Linked DNA regions of Homo sapiens: region 2 is linked to region 1. The links come from fine-mapping of genetic effects on gene expression. A gene starts in region 1. The other region holds a variant in brackets. All regions are shown on one strand. Distances are between the middles of the regions.

Region 1 (11,310 bases):
CCTTATCCATACCTCTTGGCTATCTGCCTGGTACGGTAACTCCCTCACTGCATCACTAGGAAACCCACAGCTGGGCAGAAAGAGGAGCCCTGACAACTCAGCAGCCCAGGCGAGAAACAGCACCAGGAACAGCGCCAGGAACCTGGGACAGCTCTGCACTCAGCACTCCCCATGCTGGCCCGCCCACCCCAGAAACAAAACGGGAGGGCTGTCTCCAAGACAGTGGAGACCCAGACACTCACCACGTGGGATGCCACCTGCCGGTATTTGCTGAGCTCTTCTGGCTTCACCAGCTCCTCAGGCACAGTCTTCCCTCTCTGAGAAAATGAAAAGCCCCCAAAGAAGAGCAGCAATGAATCCAAGATTCAGCCGCCCTCTCTCTCCTAAGGAGTCAACCGCCTCCCACCAGGCCAGCTCTTTCTCCAGGCTTCAGAAAGAGAACTCACCTTCTTGCGCTCCGTGGTTAGCACAGTGGCTTTGTCTTGAAGCTGGGGAAGAACAGGCTCAATGTGAGACAAATCATCTTGCAAGGAGAAAAGTACATTAGATGCTGGTCACACCTGTGCTTTCAAAAGCAGCACCAAGAACTTGCTATCTGCCAACTTCTACGTTACAGGCTTAAAGGCATTCTCTCTTCTTACTTCCATCCCAGCTTTATGAGGGGGGTGTTGATGACCTTATTTTACAGCTGAGGAAACTGAGCCTCAGAGAAGTGAAGTCAATTGCCCAAGGTCGCAGAGGTGATAAACAGCAGAGCAAGAATAGAAGCTAGGACTGTAGAGCTCCCATAGGTCTACACGCCACTAAGCCAAGGGCTCAGACACATGCTGACAATTTGAACTGCTCAGAAAGACACTAAGAAGCCCTGCAAATGAGAATCCCACTGGACTTGCAATCAGGAAGCCCAGCTCTGCCTCTCAGATGTGTCTTTCATCTGCAAAATAAGGATTATAATTCCTATCCTATTGCCCTCATAGAAAAAAAACAAGAAAATATATAAAAGTAGTTTACTATCTGCAAAGAATCTCAATAACAATAAGAGCTAAAAGGTGCACTTATCAGTAATGAAATCTTTTAAATTCCCACAGCCTGCCTATACAGTGGATATGATCATATTCTCAGTTTAGAAGCTAGGGAAATGAGACACGTAAGGGTTGGCTAAGTAAGCCAAGGTCATAAAGCTTACAAGTAGTGGCATCAAAATACAAACCCAGGCAATCTGGTCCCAGGGTCCATGCTCTGCACCACTCAACTCCCAAAAGCACAGTGATTTTAGTCACGATGGACTCCAGACAGATGGTGAAAAGTAAGGGCCCATCAGCACTCCCACCAGGTGAGAGCAGGACTTACCTTCTGAATAATCTCTGGGGTCATTCCCACCAGCTCACCCAAATCCATTGGCTCACCCGCACCCTGAAGAGAAGAAAGGTGAGGGTGAGAGGCACAGAGCACCAAAGACACCTGCATAAGGACAGTTCTGTGGGCCACTGTACACAAATGGGCTGCTGGTAAGGGAAGGGGGACACTTACCACAACACTTGGTTGGGAACTTGGCACAGCCTGGGGCACAATGAGGCCAGCCTGTGGTTTCAGGGTAGCCAGAGCTGAGAGAAAAGACGATGTTAGAAATGGGATATTACAATGCAGAACCAGCCCAGGGTGGGGGATGGCAGGGGAGAGGCTGCACCTTCTCGGGCAGCAGTGACTTCCTTGGTGAGACGGGCAATGACACGGCAGGCGGCATCGTGCTGGTACAGAGCGTGTGACAGCTCTTGGCGGGTTGTCTGCAGCTGCTGGCGCAGAGTGAAGCTGTGCAGCATGACTGCATCCTGGGAGAAGCAAATATCATTGTAAGGTGAGGTGGGGGGTGCAGGGAGTACCCAGTGGAGTCAGCCCTTGGGGAGGGGATGCTGCCTCCTATCCCAGAGCCTAGACCAGTATCAGTGACCCAAACAATATCCGAGCAAACACGAATGTGCCGGCAGACACTCTTGAGCTCCTACCCCAAGCGAACCACTGGGCACACAGACAGGAGTGGGAGCCAGCTCTTTCCCATCCCCACCTTCCCTAACTTACTGGCAAATCCCAGCTGTCATGCCGTCCCCTCTCTAAAAGAGAATAACAACACTGCTGCTGCTGCTATTTATTGATCGCCCTCGTTGTGTCAGGCACTGTGCCAGACAGTCCTGCAGGATGTATTCAATCATTCAATTCATAACTCTAGAGCACCTACTATGTACCAGGTGCTGCTCTCAGTGCTGGGGATACAACGAAGAATAAAACAAATCCCTGATGTCACAAAGTTTACCCTCTAAATAATGCTCCATCCTTCCTACCCCCAAGTCCTAACCCAGCAATGCATTCTCTTCAAGTGGGGAAGATGCTGATTCTCTTGCAGGAACTCACCCACTCATCCTGCAAAGCTTTCAGAATGGCCGGGATGCTGGTGGCTGAGGGAGGCTTGGGCCGGATTGGGTGAGCAACTGCCGAAAGGGAAAGCAGGTATGAAGAACATAACCCAGGGGCCTCCCCCGCCATCACATCTTTTCCTTTTAGCCATAAACAGCCCACCATCTCTTCCTCCAGTGCACTGGCACCACCTCCCATCCTCTCAGGCTCTGAGCTAAGATGGCCCTAGACTAAGGCAGCCAATAGGCACCTTTGATGTCGATGAGCTGCTCCTCGGAGAGAGGCTGGTTGTTGATGGGGTCGGTACCATTCTCCGCAATGTACTTCTCGATGAGCCGCCGCTCATAAACATGATTAGAGACAGGGGATACACATGGGTGCTCCGGCACTTCGTTAGAGACTGTAGAGAAAAGGCTGGTAGTGAGCTTGGAGTGAAGGCAATCTTGGGCCTAGAGGATTCCTCATCTGCTATTAGCCCCAACAAGACTAGGCATCCTCACACTCAACTAGCAGAAAGCAAGACATTTGACCCTAAGCCAGTTCTGTACTGGCCCCAGAATGCTTTCCAGCTATGGAACTACCTTTTCCTTTAGTCTCCTGACTGAGGAGATAGTCTCCTGACTATCTGACAATCATATAGTCAACAAATAATTATTAACAACTACTATGTGCCAAGCACCTAGAGAATAGCAGTCCATTATCACCACCTCATATCTGAACAATGATTGTGTACTCTATGAATACAGTTTACTCCATGACATGGAGATACACATGAAGCCATTCAAATCCCTGCCATCCATCTTAGTCTATAGCTCCAGACAGATTATCAAAGAAATTATAAAGTCTGAGAATACAGGAATAACAAACTCAGTTTCTCCTATTCTCTGACAAAACAAAATACTTCTGTGACCTCAGATGTGACCATCTGGGTGTCCTCCAATTCAATTCTGACACCAGGTACCTGGAGATAGTGTCAGATCATACAGGTTGAGGTCTCAGTCCCACCAGACTCCCCGCCCCTTCAGATGCCAATCGCAAGCCCCAGGTTGTTTGACCTGTTCTTCTGATCTACCAGCTGTAAATCAGGGTTCCCATGACCTCCTTTTTGGGTTCAATTAATTTGCAACAGTGACTCAAACAATTGTGGGAAACACTTATGTTTACCAGTTTATTGTAAAGGATATTACAAAGGATACAGATGAAGAGGAGCATAGGATGAGGTATGGGAGAAGTACAGAGCTTCCCATGCCTTCCCTGGGCACCCCACCCTCCAGGAACCCCCACATGTTCTGCTATACAGAAGCTCTTTGAATCCTGTCCTTTTGTATTTTTATGAAAACTTCATTACAAAGGCATGATTCAATAAATCACTGGTCACTAGTGACGACTTCAGTTCCTCTCATTTCCCCAGGTAAATGGGGGGTAGGACTGAAAATCCCAACCTTCTAATACCCTTTAGTCTTCCTAGGTGACCAGTCCCCATCCTGAAGCTATTGAGTCTACCAGCTACCAGTCAACTGATTAGCGTACAGACACTTATCACCTGGAAGATTCCAAGGAGCAAAGTGGCAATCGCTACAATAAAAATATTTAAAAATATTTACATGGCACATTTGCATGGCACATTTCTATGTGCCAAGCACAATTCTAGGCATACAGTACAGTAATTCATCTTCACAACAACCCGCAATAGAGGTATCATTTACACTCTTGCCTGCGTAGACTGTGCACCCCTTGAGGATAAGGATTACAGCTGGTCTCTCACTTCCAGTACAATGCAGATGCCCCCAGGGCACTCGGTAAACATCTAACAAATGAGTGAACCATGCCAGGAAGGATGGTGCTGGGGAACGTAAAAGAGAGCTTCCCGAAGATTGGAAGGAAACAATAAATGTGAAGGTACTTTGCGAGCTGTAATTTCTTCAAAGTGAGGGATTCCTTTTCCATCATTTCCCTTCCTTCTTCCCCCTCTTTGGATCAATGTACAGGTTCTGAGAAGAGAAGGAAGTGAATAGCAAAAGGGAGGGGAAACGAGTAATCTGATGAAACAACGAAAAGGGAAAGGAAAATGTCTGTACGTCATGATAAAATATCAAAGGGAAAGATAGTGGAAGGTATGAAAAAAGCATGGATTCAGGGTCCAAGATCCGTGTCACCTAACTACGTCACCCAGCTCTGCCACTGACTAGCTACGCATCCTTAGATAAGCCCCGCTCTTCCTGCGCCTTGCATCCTCATCTGCAAAACCAGGATCTTTATTTCTCCTTTAGGGAATTCTTGTGAGGATAAAATGAGATCATAGACTTGGAAGCGCGTTGTAAACCAATAAGGGCTTATAAATGTGCGCTGTTTTTATTAGTCATACAGTGTAAGGCTGGGAGCCAGATACCTGGCTGCCAGCCTTGCCTCTACCTCTAACTCATCATGTGACCTTTGCAAATTGCAAAAGCTCCGACTATCCGAGCGAGGCCTCGCAAAACATCCACTGCAATGCTCTCGATTTTGCAGATGGGGAAACCGAGGCCCAGAGCCTTGAGCCAATTCATAAAGCCAATGGGAGGCGGACCCTGGACAAGACCTCGAGTTTTCTGACTCCTACATTAAGGCTGCTTCCCTTGCACCAGCTCTCTCTGTCCAGACCTGTTTCCACTCTGTAGAATGAGGCGACCGGCCTCAGTAATGTCTGCGACAATAAACCTCAGGCACTATGTAAACTGCGGGGCACTGCGCAAATGCACCCCGCTCCGACGGGGGGGGCTCCGGTGCTGACAGGCCGCCGCTCGGCCTCCGGAGCGCCCCATTCCCGCCTCCACCCCGGCCCGGGCGCCGCAGCGGACCGCACACGCTCCCGCGCCGCTCTCTGGCCTCCTGAGACCCGCGCTTGGCCGCAGCCAACACTCACTGGAGCAGATTAGGGACATGGCGCCGTCACCGTGCTCCGAGGCGCCACACGCCGGGCTCCGGGACTAGCTTCTGAGCCTCCGCGAGCCACTTCCGGTCCCCCGCTGCTGCCGGGACTGCTCCGCGGCGAGCTGGGAGCCGCCAGCCGAGCGATGCTAGCGTAGCGCTTCACGTGGGAATGGGGACAGCCGCGCGCCACAGCCTTCAGCACCTAACGGAAATTGCCCTTTCCCAGAATGCAGCCGGGCAGGAAAGGGCCCGCCACGAACACTCGGTTATTTCCGGATTGACTCGGCTCGTTCCGTAAAGCGCCGGAGGATTGGCTGGGGCGTCGGGAGAGAGGAGGCTCGAAACTACATTTCCCATGACGCAGTGAGAATTTAAAACCAAAACAATTGGACAGCACTTGTTTTGACAACTGTGCGGCACTGTGCCACGGGACCCTGGTCTTTGAAACCTTGGCGTGCGCGAGAATTTCCCAGTGAGTTTGTTAAAATGCAGATTCCTCGGGTCTGCGTAGACAGACTGTGCCCCACGCTTTTCTAAGTCAGTTGTTTCTCGGGCTACCCTTTAAGAGACACTGCTGGATGGCCTGGTGAAGAAAATACAGAAACAGATGGGTACAAGAACTAAGAAAACGGCTAAGAAAGTGTTTTGGTCCTGACTACTACCATTTCGCTCTGTGATTTGGGGCAATTCACATTGCCCTTTCTTCTTTGTCAAAAGACAAAATCACAACAAACTTAGTTCAAAGATTTTTTTTTTCTTAAGAGACGGACTCTGGCAATGTTGCCCAGGCTGGAAGGCAGTGGCTATTCACAGGTGCGGTCATAGCAATCATGGCTATCACAGGTGCATCCTGGAACTCCTGGCCTCAAGTGATCCTTCTGCCTCAGCCTCCGGAGTAGCTGGGACTTAAGGTGCGATTCTATAGAATTGGGCAGTGCCTCATACTATAAAATATAATGGTTGTTCCAATGAGCTGAACAGGAGAACTTGGTTTTATAGACAGAAAAGGACTGAGGAAAACAGGAACAGAGAACAAAAAGCGGATTGGTCATTTGGTAATTTCAAAATTACTTTTCTTGTAAAGGTTAAAGTGGAGGGGACTTATCATGCCACCTAAAACTTGCCTGTTTGGGAATTTAGCTCCCCCCTACACACACACACACACACACACACACACACACACACATACACACTCAGAAGGTCGTAAAGATCTTCGTTTCAGCTTATTGGCGTGGAGCTTCAGCAGGACTAACTCTTTTTAGCTTGGTCTGTTAGGCCTAGCAGAAGAGCTCAGTCCAAACCAATGGCCTCCTATAAATTTCTTTATTTTGTATTTTGGATTTTGTATTTTCTATTTCTCTTCCAGCTCAGATAGTGTATGATTCTTTGTGGATATCTGTAAGATAAGATACTCTCAGGAATCATGCAAAAGACGTGGTGTGGACTGTAAGGTATCAAGACAAAAGGGCAGGATGAACAGGATGTGAGTGAGAGGGACTTTGACAGGTGGGCAGTATTCAGAGGAGAAGGAGAACGAAAGGCATTCCGGAAGAAGAAACAACGTAAGCAAAAGCTTGGAGAGAAAAATAAAAGTTACAGGTACAAAAGGCAATATGGCATAGTGGCCAAGAGCATGGACTCTGAAGTCAGACTGTGTGCTCAAATCCTAGCACCACTCAGGTGATTGGCAGTATGAACTTCTCTATGCCTTAGTTTCCTCATCTGTAAAACAGAGGGAGTGATGACAAGGGTAGAACTAACTCACTGAACTCTTATGAAGAGTTAATATGCAAAAGGGCATCTCATCTCTGTCTTGCACCAACAAAGTAACTTCCCACTTGTTCCTTGCTTCCAGCCTGGCCTCCTCCTCCTAATCTACTTTCCACAGAGCAGACAGTGATCCACTTTGAACGAAATATCTATTCATGTTATTCCCCAGGCATTTCATTCATCCAACAAATATTGATTGGGTGCTTCCTATGTGCCAAGCCCTATTGTAAAAACTGGAGATAGAAAAGGTCAACAAGAAAGACACAGTTTCTGCTGTCTTGGAGCTTACACTCTACTGTGGGTGGTGGGAGCACAGAGACAATCAACACTTAAGAAGAAAATTCCAGAGTAGTAAGTGCTATGAATACAACAAATCAGAGCAAGGTAGACAGAGGTGCTGGGGATTGGAGGAACGGCTACTTGAGGCAGGGCACTTAGAGAGTGCATCACTGAGGAGCTGATTTTTTTGCTGAGAACTGAATGAGGGTATGGAGCAAAAAAGTTTCCCCTCTGCCCTCTAAAGATTTGCTGAAATTAACTGACAATCGACAGAATAACAGGAGAAAAGGCATACAAGTGTATTAGTGTGTGAGTGTGCACAGGAGTAATACAAAATATGAGGCTCAAAGAAGGAACAGGTGGCTGATGCTTACTTAAATGGCACCCAGGAAAGACGGAGATGGGGGAAATGTAGGCAATTTTGAGGGCTAGCAAATAATTTTTAGGGAGGGCTAGCAAATAATTTTTAGGGGAAATGAATGAGCCCCAAGAACAAACAATGCCTTGGGACAAAGTTCTTATGAGCTCTGGAGGAGGTGGCAACAAATTGTGGGAAGGTGAGGGGCAGAACTCCATTGTGAACAAAGGTTGTCTTATTATGCACATAAGGTCTCTCAGGTAATCTGTTAGAGCTCCCATCAGAAGAATAGATTAAAAGTCTCTCTAGGTGTAGTGGTGAGTTGGTGACTTTTAGTTTTTATTCTTCTCCAGTGGTTAATCTTTCCTGGTTATTTGATGAGTTTCCTGTGGAGGGAGATTTGAGACAATTGCATTTCTTCTGAAAGAAATTTTCTCAGTCAGATAAGGGAACTTCTAGAGAGAGCTTCTCCCTGTACTTAGGGTGGGGGTCAGGGGGCAAGAGAAGGTTAGAAAGTCCTTGGTTCTAAGGCAGCTTCTAAGACCTTCCCATTTCTTTTCATTCAAAAGTGCTCAGCATGCTGTAACCTCAGGACCAATCCAAACTGGGCCTACTCTTTTGATAACAGAATGTCATGTTCTCTTGTAGGTATGACAGAGCCAAAACTCCAAGTCATGTCAGTAGGGCATGCCCAATAGAAAATGCTTTGACATCTAACAACACCCAGAACCAATGATTCCTCCCTGTGGTACCAAGAAGACCTAGACATGATCGGAACCTAAATGCTGGAACTCTTTCAGGAGCAAAGGGTCTGTTGACCAGAAAGATCCAGGGGTAAAATCCACCTCAACATACCCGTGTAGTCAAATTTGACACCCTCCAATCAGACCCTGCCAAGCCAAAATTCCTAATACGTTTCCTTGCCATCTGTATTAGTCTGTTTTCACGCTGCTGACAAAGACATACCTGAGACTGGACAATTTACAAAAGAGGTTTAATTGGACTTACAGTTCCACGTGGCTGGGGAAACCTCACAATCATGGCAGAAGGCAAGGAGGAGCAAGTCACATCTTACATGGATGGCAGCAGGCAAAAACAAAGAGCTTGTACAGGGAAACTCCTGTTTCTCAAAACCATCAGACCTCATGAGACTTATTCACTATCACAAGAACAGCACAAGAAAGACCTGCCCCTATGATTCAATTATCTCCCACTGGGTCCCTCCCACAACATGTGAGAATTCAAGATGAGATTTGGGTGGGGACACAGCCAAACCATATCACCCTCTGACCCCTTAAATCTTGCCCCAGACCCCAAATTAGGAGACAGATGTGAGCCATGCCTCCAGTCTCCTTGCTGGGTGGCCCTGCAATAAAGCCTTTCTGTTCTCAAAAGCTGGTACCATAGTATTGGCTTCTATGTGCATCAGGCAGTGAGCCTATTTGCTCAGAAACAATACTAAAGCACCATACTTTGGGGTATCATTCTCTGAGCCCCAACCAGGGGTCATTCCTGAGGCCATGAATGAGGGAGAGAGTTTCTGGCTGAGGAAACTTGCCCGTAAGTCTTGCACCATCTGGCCCATGCTGACCATCACAGTCTCACTTTATCTTCTTTCCAGCCACATTGGCCTTTCAGTTCCTCAAACATACCCGCGCTGGCTGGTTTCAGAACTTCTGCCTGGATCACTGTCCTCTCCCCCCTCCCTCTTCCCCCTCCTGTCTCAAACCCTCCAATGTAAACTTCAGTCTCACCTTAAATGTCACTTCCTCTGGAGCCCTTTTCATGGTCCCTGGTTTAAATTTAGTCCATACAGCAAACTGTGATTGTCCTCCAAACCACTTCAAAGAACTGTAATCATTTAATTATCTATTTATAAGTATCTGATGTCTGGGTTCTTCACTAGACTGTAAACTTCATGATGGCAGGAACCATAATTGTTCTGGTTACTCTTGCTCTCAAGAGTGTAAGAGTGCCACATTGTGCCTGGCACATAGCAGGAACTTTATGATGATTGTTGGTTGGAAGACAGGTTGCCTGACAGGCCAGTCATCTCAACTACTGTACTTGGATGTGTGGTTGGAAATAAAATGGATCCGTTTAGGAGAGGCCTTGAACCCAAGGTGGTAAAACTTGGGTGGTGATTGGGCTGGCAGCACAACAGCATGTGTTTGCATTTGAGCTATGGAGTGATAACCATACTTTCAGAAGTTTCCTCTGGAAGACACTTACTGGATGGGTTGGAGTGGGACAGACTAGAAGGAGGGAGACTCAGTAATTAATTGTTGAACCAATCTTTATTGAGTACCCATAGCGTGTCAGCCCGGCACGATACTAGGTGTTGGTAGTATCACAATGAGCAAAACCAGAGGTGTCCCTCTACTGGGGAGTTTATGGCTATGATAGCAGGATGCAGGAAAAAGGAAGTCCTGTCAAGGCTTTTCCGTTTCATAAGCCAGCCCACAGGGAATAGAAAAAATTCAGGGCACTTGGTTTCAGAGAAACAGGGAGAGTTAAGGGAAAAGAGATATATGCATTGGTGCTGGTGGGTCCCTGAGGAAGGAACTCTATGCCTTGTTCCTCCCAGACCAAAGCTGCTGTTGCTGCCTGGGGAGCATGGGGACACATTGGCCAAAGACCCAAAAGAAGCTTAATTTCCCAGGTATCTTCAGTAGCAATCTGTGTGGATAAGTGACAGAAGATTAGTCAGGGAGAAGTTGCCAGCTTAAACAACTGACACTGATAATTAGATGAATTTTCTTTTTTTCTTTTTTTTTACATGGAGTCTCACTCACTGTCACCCAGCTGGAGAGCAGTGGCGTGATCTTGGCTCACTGCAACCTCTGCCTTCTGGATTTAAGTGATTCTCCTGCCTCAGCCTCCTGAGTAGGGATTACAGCACACACCACCACACCTGGCTAGTTTTGTTTGGTATTTTTAGAGAGACAGGGTTTCATCATTTTGGCTAGGCTGGACTTGAACTCTTTCACCTCAAGTGATCCCTCTGCCTCAGTCTCCCAAAGTGCTGGGATTACAGGTGTGAGCCATTGCCCCCGGCCAGGATTAGATACATTTTCTCCCCCAACTTTGGCCCTATATTCATTTTCCAAAAGGTGTCTACGACCTGAAAATCAAGGATGGGAAGAACCCTGAACTGTCTGAGACTGTTTCTACTACCCACATGGAAAAGAGAGTTGAAAAGAAATTAATTTGTCATAGAAAAAAAAAAAGGTTAAATTTCTTTCCCAGGAAAGTCTGTGACCTGAGATTGTTAATCTTAGACATCAGAAAGGATCGCACAAGCAAATGTAAAATTGAAACTGTTAGAAAAGCTGGAAGGTGAGGTTTAGGATGCTACCAGAGCCTGTCCTGGAAGAAGGACTCTTAGCTGAGGGGCAGGAAGTGACAAGAGCTCAGATGAAGATGGATGTGTCTGAGGAACATCTGATGGAAAGAAACAACTGGGTGAGGTGACAGATTGGGAGCCTACAGAGTGTGTACTCTAGGAGGAAGGCAGAACTGGAAGGCTGAATGGTTGGGGGTGGGAGGGAAGAGTTACGTTTTAGAGGGTTGAGTTTGAGAAA
Region 2 (10,433 bases), 41 kb before region 1:
AAACGTGGCAGCTTTAAACAACAGAGACTTATTCTCTTACAGTCTGGAAGCCAGAGTCTGTAATCAGATGCCAGCACTTCCTCCGAAAGCTCTAGAAAAGGAGACTTTTTGGCCCCTCCAGCTTCTGGTGGCTCCAGGCGTCCCTTGGCTTAGGGCTGCATCACTGCAATCTCTACCTCCTCTTTACCTGGCCTTCCCCCTCCCTCTTTTCATGTGTCTCTCACAGAGTACTGGTCACTGGACTTAGGGCTCATCTGGATCATCCAGGGTGCTCTCATCTTGAGATTCTTAAATTGATTACATCTGCAAAGTCCTCTTATCCAAATAAGGCCACATTCACAGGTTCCAGGGGTTAGGTTGTGGACATGTCTTTTGAGGGCCACCATTCAACACAGTGAAAGCAATAATAGCTTCTGGGTACGGTGGCTCATGCCTGCAATCCCAGCACTTCGGGAGGATGAGGCGGACAGATCACTTGAGGTCAGGAGTTCGAGACCAGCCTGGCCAACAGGCAAAACCCCATCTCTACTAAAAATACAAAAATTAGCCAGGTGTGATGGTGCACGCCTGTAATACCAGCTATTCAGGAGGCTGAGGCAGGAGAATCGCTTGAACCCAGGAGGCAGAGGTTATGGTGAGCCGAGATCCTGCCACTCCACTCCAGCCTGGGTGACAGAGCGAGACGCCATCTCAAAAAAAAAAAAAAAAAAAAAATGAAAACAGTAATAGCTAACACTTATGGGGCACTCACTATGTGCCAGCGTAAGGCTGAAACTTGCTCATGGATGAGCTCATCAAATATTCACGCACCCCTCTGAGTTAGGTACCACTATCATCGTCACTCACCAAGGGGAAAACTGAGGCTCAGAGAGCTTAAGCAACCCTACCAAGCCTGCTCAGCTGGGGAGCAGAGGAGCTGGAGTTCAGAGCCATGTGGTCCAGCAGCAGAGCCCAGCTCTTCGCAGCTGATGAGATTCTCTGAGGTTCTTTGTTCCCTCAGGGGAAGCAGGGCTGCCTGTCTTCAGTTAAATGCGCTCCCACTGGCCTTCTGGGAGCATCTCTGCGGTGAGCACGGTCCATACATACACACACAGCTGGCGCTGCTCTTGGGTTACTCTGCAGGCCCCGGAGTGAGGCAGCCTGCTTCCTGCTGGTTTCCTGGCATGCATGGATCCCCTGAAAGGGGATTTTGTCTTTCCAGCCTAGAGAGGCTCCATCCTCCTCCAGTGCCTTCCCTAGGCTCTATTCACAGAGGAGACAGGGCAAGCAACTGATACTTACACGGCGCCCCACTTAGGTGGACTGTATTCTTAGTTCCATTTTATAGATTAAGAAACTCAAGTTCCAACTGGGTGCGGTGGCTCACGCCTGTAATCCCAGCACTTTGGGAGGCTGAGGCGGGCGGATCGCAAGGTCAGGAGATCGAGACCATCCTGGCTAACACGGTGAAACCCCGTCTCTACTAAAAATATAAAAAATTAGCCGGGCATGGTGGCCAGCGCCTGCAGTCCCAGCTACTCGGGAGGCTAAGGCTGGAGAATGGTGTGAACCGGGAGGCGGAGCTTGCAGTGAGCCGAGATCGCGCCACTGCACTCCAGCCTGGGCGACAGAGTGAGACTCTGTCTCAAAACAAAACAAAAAAAAAAAAAGAAAGAAAAGAAACTGAAGTTCCATTAAAAAAAAATTCATAGGTTAAAAACAGAAAGAAAGAAATGAACAAACAGGTTTACAAACAGGCCAAGTGGCCAGGTGTGGAGGCTCATGCCTGTAATCCCAGCACTTTGGGAGACAGAGGCGGGCAGATTGCTTGAGCCCAGGAGTTTGAGACCAGCCTGGGCAATATAGCAAGACCCCATCTCTAAAAAAAAACCCAAAAACCAGAAGCCAAGTGGATAAAGCCAAGATTCCAAGTCAAGTCACCTCCATCTGACCCTCTCTCTTTATCAATAAAAATAATCGTGGTTGTAATGGCTATCGTGTTCAAATGATGACCATGTGCAGACCCTGTTCTGCCTGCTTCACATGGATTATCTCATTTAATCCTCAGAGCAACCCTACAATTTAGGTGCTATTATAACCCCATTTTATAGATGAGGAAAGCAAGTCACAGAGCAGGGAAGGGACTTTTCCAAGGTCTCCAGTGGGTGAGCAGAGGAGCTGGGATCCTCCCAGGCTGATAATTCTTGGTGTCCATGAGTCTTTGCAAGAACGTAGAGTCGTAACCGAGGGCTCAGGGCGCTCGTGCGCGCTCTCTCTCTCTCTTGGATACTCTGGTACCCTTTTCCCAAAGGTGTTCTGCCCTTGGCCCTGAGGAAGCCCCCCTTCTCTTTCCCTGCCCATTTCCAGCACCTTGGGAGACGTACTTTCCCCATGGGTCCATGACCAGTGGGGAAACACCTCTCCGTGTCTTATGTAATTGCATCCCCACCATAATCATTCTCATCCTTACTCTCCAGATAGAGGAAAAAAGCCGGTAAGTGACTTCCCAGGGCCCTTGTGCTCATAAACAGTGAGCACCAGGCAAAATCCAGGCCTCTCAAAGACTCCAGCTGATTCTCTCTCTGGCCCCTAAAAGCCCCCGTTAGGAAAAGTTCTCTCTTATGATAGCAAATAAATGCAGAAGGAAGGGTAGAGTTAGAGAACCACCACCCACTTGGCAACCACACTAGCCAGTGAACATTTGAAGAGGAGCAGGATTGATTACATAGTCTCAAAGTATCTCCCTGTAAGATACTCATGAATTACAAAGAGAAACATCATTACTTTATGGTGGAGAAACCTGGCAGACACCACCTTATCCAAGTGATCAAAGTCACATCAGCAATAACAGGACAAGCCAGCGGGGTGTGCCTCGAGATACTGAGAAGGACACAACATCACTTCTGTACAAGCTGAATTGTATCCCCCCAAAATTCATATGCGAAATCCCTAACCCTCCACCCCCATCCCTCAGAATGTGACTGTATTTGGAGATAGAGCTTTTAAAGATGTGATTTAAGATTGAGCCCCTTAAGGTGGCCCTAATCCAATCTGACTGGTGTCCTTAGAAGAAGAGGAAATTTGTTTTTGTTTTTTGGGATGGA[G/A]TTTCACTCTGTCTTCCAGACTGGAGTGCAGTGGTGCCGTCTTGGCTCCCTGCAACCTCCACCTCCCAGGTTCAAGTGATTCTCCCACCTCAGCCTCCTGAGGAGCTGGGATTGCAGGTGTGCACCACCACACCCAACTAATTAGTTTGTATTTTTAGTAGAGATGGGGTTTCACCATGTTGGCCAGGCTGGTCTCAAACTCCTGACCTCAAGTGATCTGCCCACCTCGGCCTCCCAAAGTGCTAGGATTACAGGCGTGAGCCACCGTGCCAGCCAGAAGAAGAGGGAATTTGACCATTCAAAGAGACACCAAGGACGCACCAGCACAGGGGAAAGACCACGTGAGGACTCAGTGAGAAGACGGTTGTCTGCAGGCCAAAGAGAGAGGCCTCAGGAGCAACCAGACCTGCCACCACTTTGACCTAGCACATCCAGGCTCCAGAGCTGTGAGAAAAAGACTTATTTAAGCCACTCAGTCTGTATTTTGTTACAGCAGCCAAACGGACTAATACAAGGCCAAGATGCATCAACTAAATCTAATGTAACCAGGAGAAAACACCAGACAAACCCAAACTGAGGGCCATTCTGCAAAATCATCCGGCTGTACTAAAAAATGTCAAGGGTATGAAAGACAAAAGAAGATAGAAGGGCGGTCCCAGATCAGAGGAGGCCAAGAGGCACGCCAGCGAGACTCTGAGCCTGGATTGGATCCTGCAGACTCCCAAAACCACTGTACTCCTTTGCCATGAAAGTCACAGTTAGGACAGTCGGCAGATGTTGAGTAATTGTCAGAGCAGGAGCACCGTCATCTCGGACAAATACTGCCACTTTAAGCTCCAGCTCCCTTTCTAGCCTCATGCATTTCAAGGAAATCACTTCTCTTCTAACTACAACAGCCAGAAAGAGCAGACAGTAAAATACAGATAAGACAGCTCCGGCACAGAGCGGGGTGGAGGGAAGGTCTCTTTGGTAACTGCCAAACTTCACCCTCACACAATGAGCCCCAGTAAAACAGTGGGCCTTAATAAGCACATTCCTTTTCCTTCAGGGGCACTAAGATAGGGAAGCTAAAAGCAGACTCTGGGGATATGCCTGTAGCTGCAGAAAGATATATGGGAACAGACACACAACTCTCCCTCCCAGATACGCACAGCAAAGAGACACAGGAGCAGTCCAAGCCTCTGATAAACTCCCCCGCCCTGAATCCTTAACTCTTAATCTGTAAGAGAGTGGGGCTCTGACCTAACTCGGCCAGCCGCCCCTCTCAGGTTTACTCAACATAAACCTGTCCCTGTTGCCTGTTGAACCGCCCTTTCATGTTGCTTTCCTCTTTATTTCTTACAATAATGTCTGCAGATTAGATCGTTGTGTTTATACCATTGTTGGTTTCCTGATTTTGATCATTTGACTGTAGGGGTGATTTGTTTTTTTAGGAAATGTATACTGAAGCAATTAGAGGTAAAGGGGAATCTGTCATTTCTGCAACTGACTCTTGAATGATATGGAAGAATGTGTGCGTGTGTGCGTGTGCGTGCGTGTATGTCTGCACACATGCAGAGAGAGAAAGCGGGAGCTACAGCAAATGTAAAAAGTGAACAGTGAACATCTGAGGAATCTGGAGGAGGCTATATGGAAATTCTGCAAATCTGAAATAATTTCAAAATTAAAAGTTTAAAACTTCCACATCGTCCCTCAGGGAAAATCCACCCCACTCCCCGCTCCTGCCTGGCTCCTCTCCTTCCCCTCCTAGTCCTTCCCTCGCCAGCACCCTCAGCCTGCCTGGAGTCCTTGTCCTGGACCTTTGTGTGACCTGCTTCCTCCCTCCTCCTCCAGCTCTGCTCTCCCCAGATCCCCATTGCACCATCCCTGTCCTCCCCGCCTCCTCCCACCTCTGCTCAGGACCCCTTTCCTCCAAAAACACTTCCATGTCGCCCATCCTCGATGCTGTGTTGGGTGCCTCTTCCCACTGTGCCCCCAGAGGGACTCCCACCCCGCCCCACCAAGCTTTCCCAGCTGAGCTTTAATCACAGTAGAAGTGAATTATTGCCAAGCATTAAATCATTACTGCACCTGGTACCCATGACTTGTCTCTTTGTGTCTTCCTATCCACCATGTGGGCAAGGAAAGCATTATCACCCCCAGTTTACAAACAGGAAACCTGAGGCTCAGAATAGATAATGCATCTGAGTCACAGCTAAGAAAGTGGTTGGGGCACCATTAGAACCAACTTTTTTTGTTTAAACTTTTATTTTAGGTTCAGGGTTACTTATGCAGGTTTGTTATATAGGTAAATGCATGTCCAGAGGGATTGTTGTACAGATTATTTCATCACCCAGATACTAAGCCTAGCACCCAATAGTTATTATTTCCACCCTTCTCCTTCCTCTTACCCTCTACCCTTCAATAGGCCCCAGTGTGTGCCATTCCCCTCTATGTGTCCATATGTTGTCATCATTTAGCCTTCAGTTATAAGTGAGAACATGTGGTATTGGTTTCTGTTCCTGCATTTGTTTGCTAAGGATAATATCCTCCAGCTCCATCCATGTTCTTGCAAGAGATGTGATCTCATTCTTTTTTATGGCTGCATAGTATTCCATGGTGTATGTGTACCACATTTTCCTTTTTTTTTTTTCTTTTTCTTTTTTTTTTTTTTTTTTTGAGACAGAGTCTCACTCTGTCGGCCAGGCTGGAGTGCAACAGCACAATCTCGGCTCACTGCAACCTCCGTCTCCTGGGTTCAAGCGATTCTCCTGCCTCAGCCTCCTGAGTAGCTGGGACTACAGGTGCGTGCCACCACACCCAGCTAATTTTTGTATTTTTAGTAGAGACAGGGTTTCACCATGTTAGCCAGGATGGTCTCGATCTCCTGACCTCGTGATCCGCCCGCCTCGGCCTCCCAAAGTGCTGGGATTACAGGCGTGAGCCACCGTGCTCAGCATGTACCAGATTTTCTTTATTGAGTCTACCATTGATGGGCATTTGATTCCATGTCTTGGCTATTGTGAATCATGCTGCACTGAACATATGCACGCAGGTTCAGTGTCTTTATGATAGAACAATTTATATTCCTTTGGATATATACCCAGTAATGCGATTTCTGCATCAAATGATAGTTCTGTTTTCAGCTCTTTGAGGAATCACCACACTCCCACAGTGGTCAAACCAATTTACACCCCCACCAAGAGCGTATAAGCATTCCTTTTTCTCTGCAACCTCACCAGAACCGGGCTCTTAGCTATCAAGCCTCTTGCTCTCCCCTTCCAGCAGCTGCTAATTATAATAGCTGCATTTTCTAATGTTTGCTGAGCTCAAACGCTGCTGGGCCCTAGGCTAATCACTTGCAGGAATTAGTGCCAGGACGTGGGGCTGGTGACAGTCCCTTCCTCAGAGGATGGTCAGGCGGTATAAGGATCTAACACAAGCAAGACCTGGCACTGTAATCATGGCAGACCACAGGCCATTCTTGTTGTTTCCAGCCACTTTTATGTCTTAGAACTGTTCTAGATTTACAGAACTGAGAAGATAGTACAGACAGTTCCCATACACCGCAGGCCCAGTTTACCCCATAACTGATCTTACTTGAGTATGATACATTTATTACAATTAATGAACAAACAAATGTGGACACATTATTATTAACTAAAATCCACTTTCTTCACTTTTACTGCCTTTTTCTGTTCCACGATCCCATCCAGATGCCACATTACATTTAGTTGTCCTTGTTATTTTTTATTAGTCATAGTCATCATCATACTGACCGGCTGAATCCTCAGGAGAGCCCTTGGAGGTGCTACTGGTCTGTTTACTCACCTGCAGTCCCCATTCCGCTGCCAGCTCTGAGGGCTGTGTCTTCCTGGTCTTGCTCTAATGCCCCTAAAGCCCTGCCTGAGGAGCTGTGACTGTACTAACCAGGCCGGCAGCTCCCAGTGGTCCTGAGGCCTCAAGGCAGGAAGGAGGACCTGGAGAGCCTGTTGGGGCAGGAAGGGAATGCAGAAAGGCTGGGGTGAGAGGGAGACAGTGGAGGGCCTGAGGTCTGCAGTGCCACCTCCTAGCCCTGGATCCCTTCCCACAGCCCATCTGCAACCTCAGTTTTCTGGAAAGCTCCCTCCTCCCTTCCAAAGCCACAGCTGTGAGACAGAAAGCCAGGGTGAGGGGCCACGTGCAGCTTTCTGCCTCCCGCTGCCTTTGGAACAGGAGTTTCACCACAGCCCCTGGTGGCCAGGTGGGTGCTCCTCCAGGTGGGCCCCCTTTGCCCTTACAGGCACCCACTTGCCACCTCCTCCATAAAAGGCCTGGGCCCAGCTCTGGTGGCGAGGGAGTAGGGGGTGTGTCTGTGGCGTCTCATGGCAGGAGGCTCAGCCACGACCTGGGGTTACCCTGTGGCCCTGCTACTGCTGGTTGCCACCCTGGGGCTGGGTAGGTGGCTCCAGCCCGACCCTGGCCTCCCAGGCCTCCGGCACAGCTACGACTGTGGGATCAAGGGAATGCAGCTGCTGGTGTTCCCCAGGCCAGGCCAGACTCTCCGCTTCAAGGTGGTGGGTGAGTGCTGGCAGAGTCCTGGCCCCTGCCTCCCTGGCCACGGGCTGCTGCCAGAAGGGAGCTGGGACCCTTCCCCTGAAGGAGCAAGAACAGAGGCCTCCCTCCAGCCTGGGGGTGTCCAGCCCCCCACCCCCTCACCACAGAAAAGGGCAAGGAGGAGAATCATCACCCAGGGCAGCTTCTCCCACGTTAGTGTGCATGGGAAACACCTGGCCACCTTGTTGAGGTGCAGGTTCTGATTCAGTGGACCTGGGGCAGGGCCAAGCCTCTGCATTTCTTTTCTTTTTTTTTTTTTTTTCTGAGACAGTCTCACTTCTTTCAATCTGTTCTCCAGGCTTGAGTGCAGTTGGCACGATCTCAGCTCACTGCAACCTCCACCACCCAGGTTCAAGCAATTCTCCTGCCTCAGCCTCTTAGTAGCTGGGACTACAGGTGTGTGCCACCACGCCCAGCTACTTTTTGTATTTTTAGTAGAGATGGAGTTTCACGATATTGGTCAGGCTGGTCTCGAACTCCTGACCTCAGGTGATCCACCTGCCTCAGCCTCCCAAAGTGCTGGGGTTATAGGCGTGAGCCACTGCACCCAGCCTAGGCTCTGCATCTCTAACCACGCTCAGTCAAAACTGAGGCTGAGGGTCCATAAACCACTTCCAGCAGCAGGACCTAGTAGGCGTGGCCTGGTGTGGGTTTAGAACTGGGGTTTGGATCTGCAGCTTCTAAACGGGATGATTTTGGACAACTGACCTGACTCATAAGCCTCTGTTTCCTCATCTGCAAGGTGGGGAAGATGAACCTGGCCGTGCTCATGGAACAAGGGCATGGGGACATGCCCACACCCAGGGAATGCCCAGGCTGTTCTGGGGCAACAAGCAGGGTGGACACCTAGGGGGTGTCTCCAAGCAACTGCAGCAGCCACAGTTAACCTGGGAAATGGGTTCAGATCTTTCTACAAAGCCCAGGATTCAAATCCTCATTCTGCCCCTCATTGTGTGCACCTAAGAAAGCTCACGCACCCTCCCTTCCTCAGCTGCCTCAGCCACAGGATGTGGATAACTAAGCTTAAAAGAAGTGATGTGAAATACTCAGGCCAGTGCCTGAGACCCTGTGTATCCCTTCTCCACCTCATCTTCGTGCCTGCCTGCTGCCGTGTGCTGTGAGCAGGGAACCCTAGCTAGAAAGATCCTAAGACCCTCCCATCCCCTTACAGCTGTGGAAACTGAGAGCAGAGAGGGGAGGGGGCTTGCCCAAGACCACACAACAAACTAATAGCAAAGCTAAGGCAAGAACCCAGGTCTCCTGGCTGCTGAGTGGGAACTCCTTCCGAGACCCCAGCAACCTCTCCCTGCACCCTTCAACATCCCTGGCCCCTCCCCTTCCCCCACTGCAGATGAATTTGGGAACCGATTTGATGTCAACAACTGCTCCATCTGCTACCACTGGGTCACCTCCAGGCCGCAGGAGCCTGCAGTCTTCTCGGCCGATTACAGAGGCTGCCACGTGCTGGAGAAGGTAGGGGTTGTTCATGCTCTGGCACAGGGGCAAGCTTGTCCTAGTGTCATGTCAGGCTGAAGAGGCCCCTCATGAACCAGAAAGGAGCCAAAGCCGAAGATCTGTTGAGCTGGTGGGTGAGGGAAACTAAGCTCTGGAAGGTACTTTCTGGAATCCACCATGAATCCAGCTCCCTGCCTAATGGCCAGCTCAGCTCTCGTGGGCCCGTCCCCTGCCTGGGTATGCTAGGTGGCCTCACCTTGCTGCTCTATGATGGCCTCTCACCTGCAGGATGGGCGTTTCCACCTGAGGGTGTTCATGGAGGCTGTGCTGCCCAATGGTCGTGTGGATGTGGCACAAGACGCTACTCTGATCTGTCCCAAACCTGACCCCTCCCGGACTCTGGACTCCCAGCTGGCACCACCCGCCATGTTCTCTGTCTCAACCCCACAAACCCTTTCCTTCCTCCCCACCTCTGGCCATACCTCCCAAGGCTCTGGCCATGCCTTTCCCAGCCCACTGGACCCAGGGCACAGCTCTGTCCACCCAACCCCTGCTTTACCATCCCCTGGACCTGGACCTACCCTCGCCACCCTGGCTCAACCCCACTGGGGCACCTTGGAACACTGGGATGTGAACAAACGAGATTACATAGGTACGCAGGACATCTGAGTGTACTTACCCTCTGTCTGGGGACTTCTGGAGTACAGGGTGGCCTAACAGCCTTTTACTGGGCTCTAAGCCATTTCTTTTTTTGTTTTTTTCTTTTTTTAGAAAAAGATGATTCTTTTATTCCTTTGTAGTATTTGGAAAACAGCTTTAAACATGTATAGGTGTACTAAAGCTAGAAGAGGTCTTGTAAATTTGTTTCCTAACTTTAGGCAGAAACTCATTGAAACCATTGCCAGCAACACCTGATTCTCAGAAAATATTCTCTAGAAATTTCAGTAATATTCAGTTTTGAGGGAGGACATTTACTGTGCTGGCTAAGAGCACAAGCTCTGGAGCAGGTTCCCAAGATTCAATTCCAGGGCCATGATTTGCAAACTGTGTGCCTTCAGCCTCATCACTCTGTCCCAACCCTAGGTACCCACCTGAGCCAGGAGCAGTGCCAGGTGGCCTCAGGGCACCTCCCCTGCATCGTGAGAAGAACTTCAAAAGAAGCCTGTCAGCAGGCTGGCTGCTGCTATGACAACACCAGAGAGGTTCCCTGTTACTATGGCAACACAGGTACAACCTCCCACCCCAGCAAGATCCTGGTCCCTTGGATTCTGAAGCGGAAGGAGAGCTGTCTCCTCCAGCTGGTGGAAACTGCTTCCTATC

Evidence for each region. PIP is the estimated chance that this variant, and not a neighbour inherited with it, causes the effect.
Region 2: its variant is fine-mapped to the expression of PRPF19 in whole blood (INTERVAL, PIP 0.99).

The regions. Positions count from the first base shown.
Region 1 is chr11:60,901,053-60,912,362 of GRCh38, forward strand. It overlaps PRPF19 (pre-mRNA processing factor 19), which reads right to left and starts at 5,533. Exons shown (of 16, transcript NM_014502.5): 1 at 5,312-5,533; 2 at 2,660-2,809; 3 at 2,407-2,483; 4 at 1,688-1,829; 5 at 1,531-1,604; 6 at 1,351-1,413; 7 at 447-488; 8 at 243-317. The coding sequence starts at 5,330. PRPF19-DT (PRPF19 divergent transcript) reads left to right here and starts at 5,727. Exons shown (of 2, transcript NR_186697.1): 1 at 5,727-5,791; 2 at 8,375-9,848. RefSeq lists a silencer at 5,126-5,225 and enhancers at 5,165-5,752, 5,866-5,985, 8,808-8,857, 9,568-9,877.
Region 2 is chr11:60,860,136-60,870,568 of GRCh38, forward strand. It overlaps ZP1 (zona pellucida glycoprotein 1), which reads left to right and starts at 7,407. Exons shown (of 12, transcript NM_207341.4): 1 at 7,407-7,622; 2 at 9,010-9,131; 3 at 9,402-9,765; 4 at 10,197-10,340. The coding sequence starts at 7,427. RefSeq lists silencers at 4,001-4,295, 4,142-4,359. The variant G/A (reference allele first, on the strand shown) is at 3,084.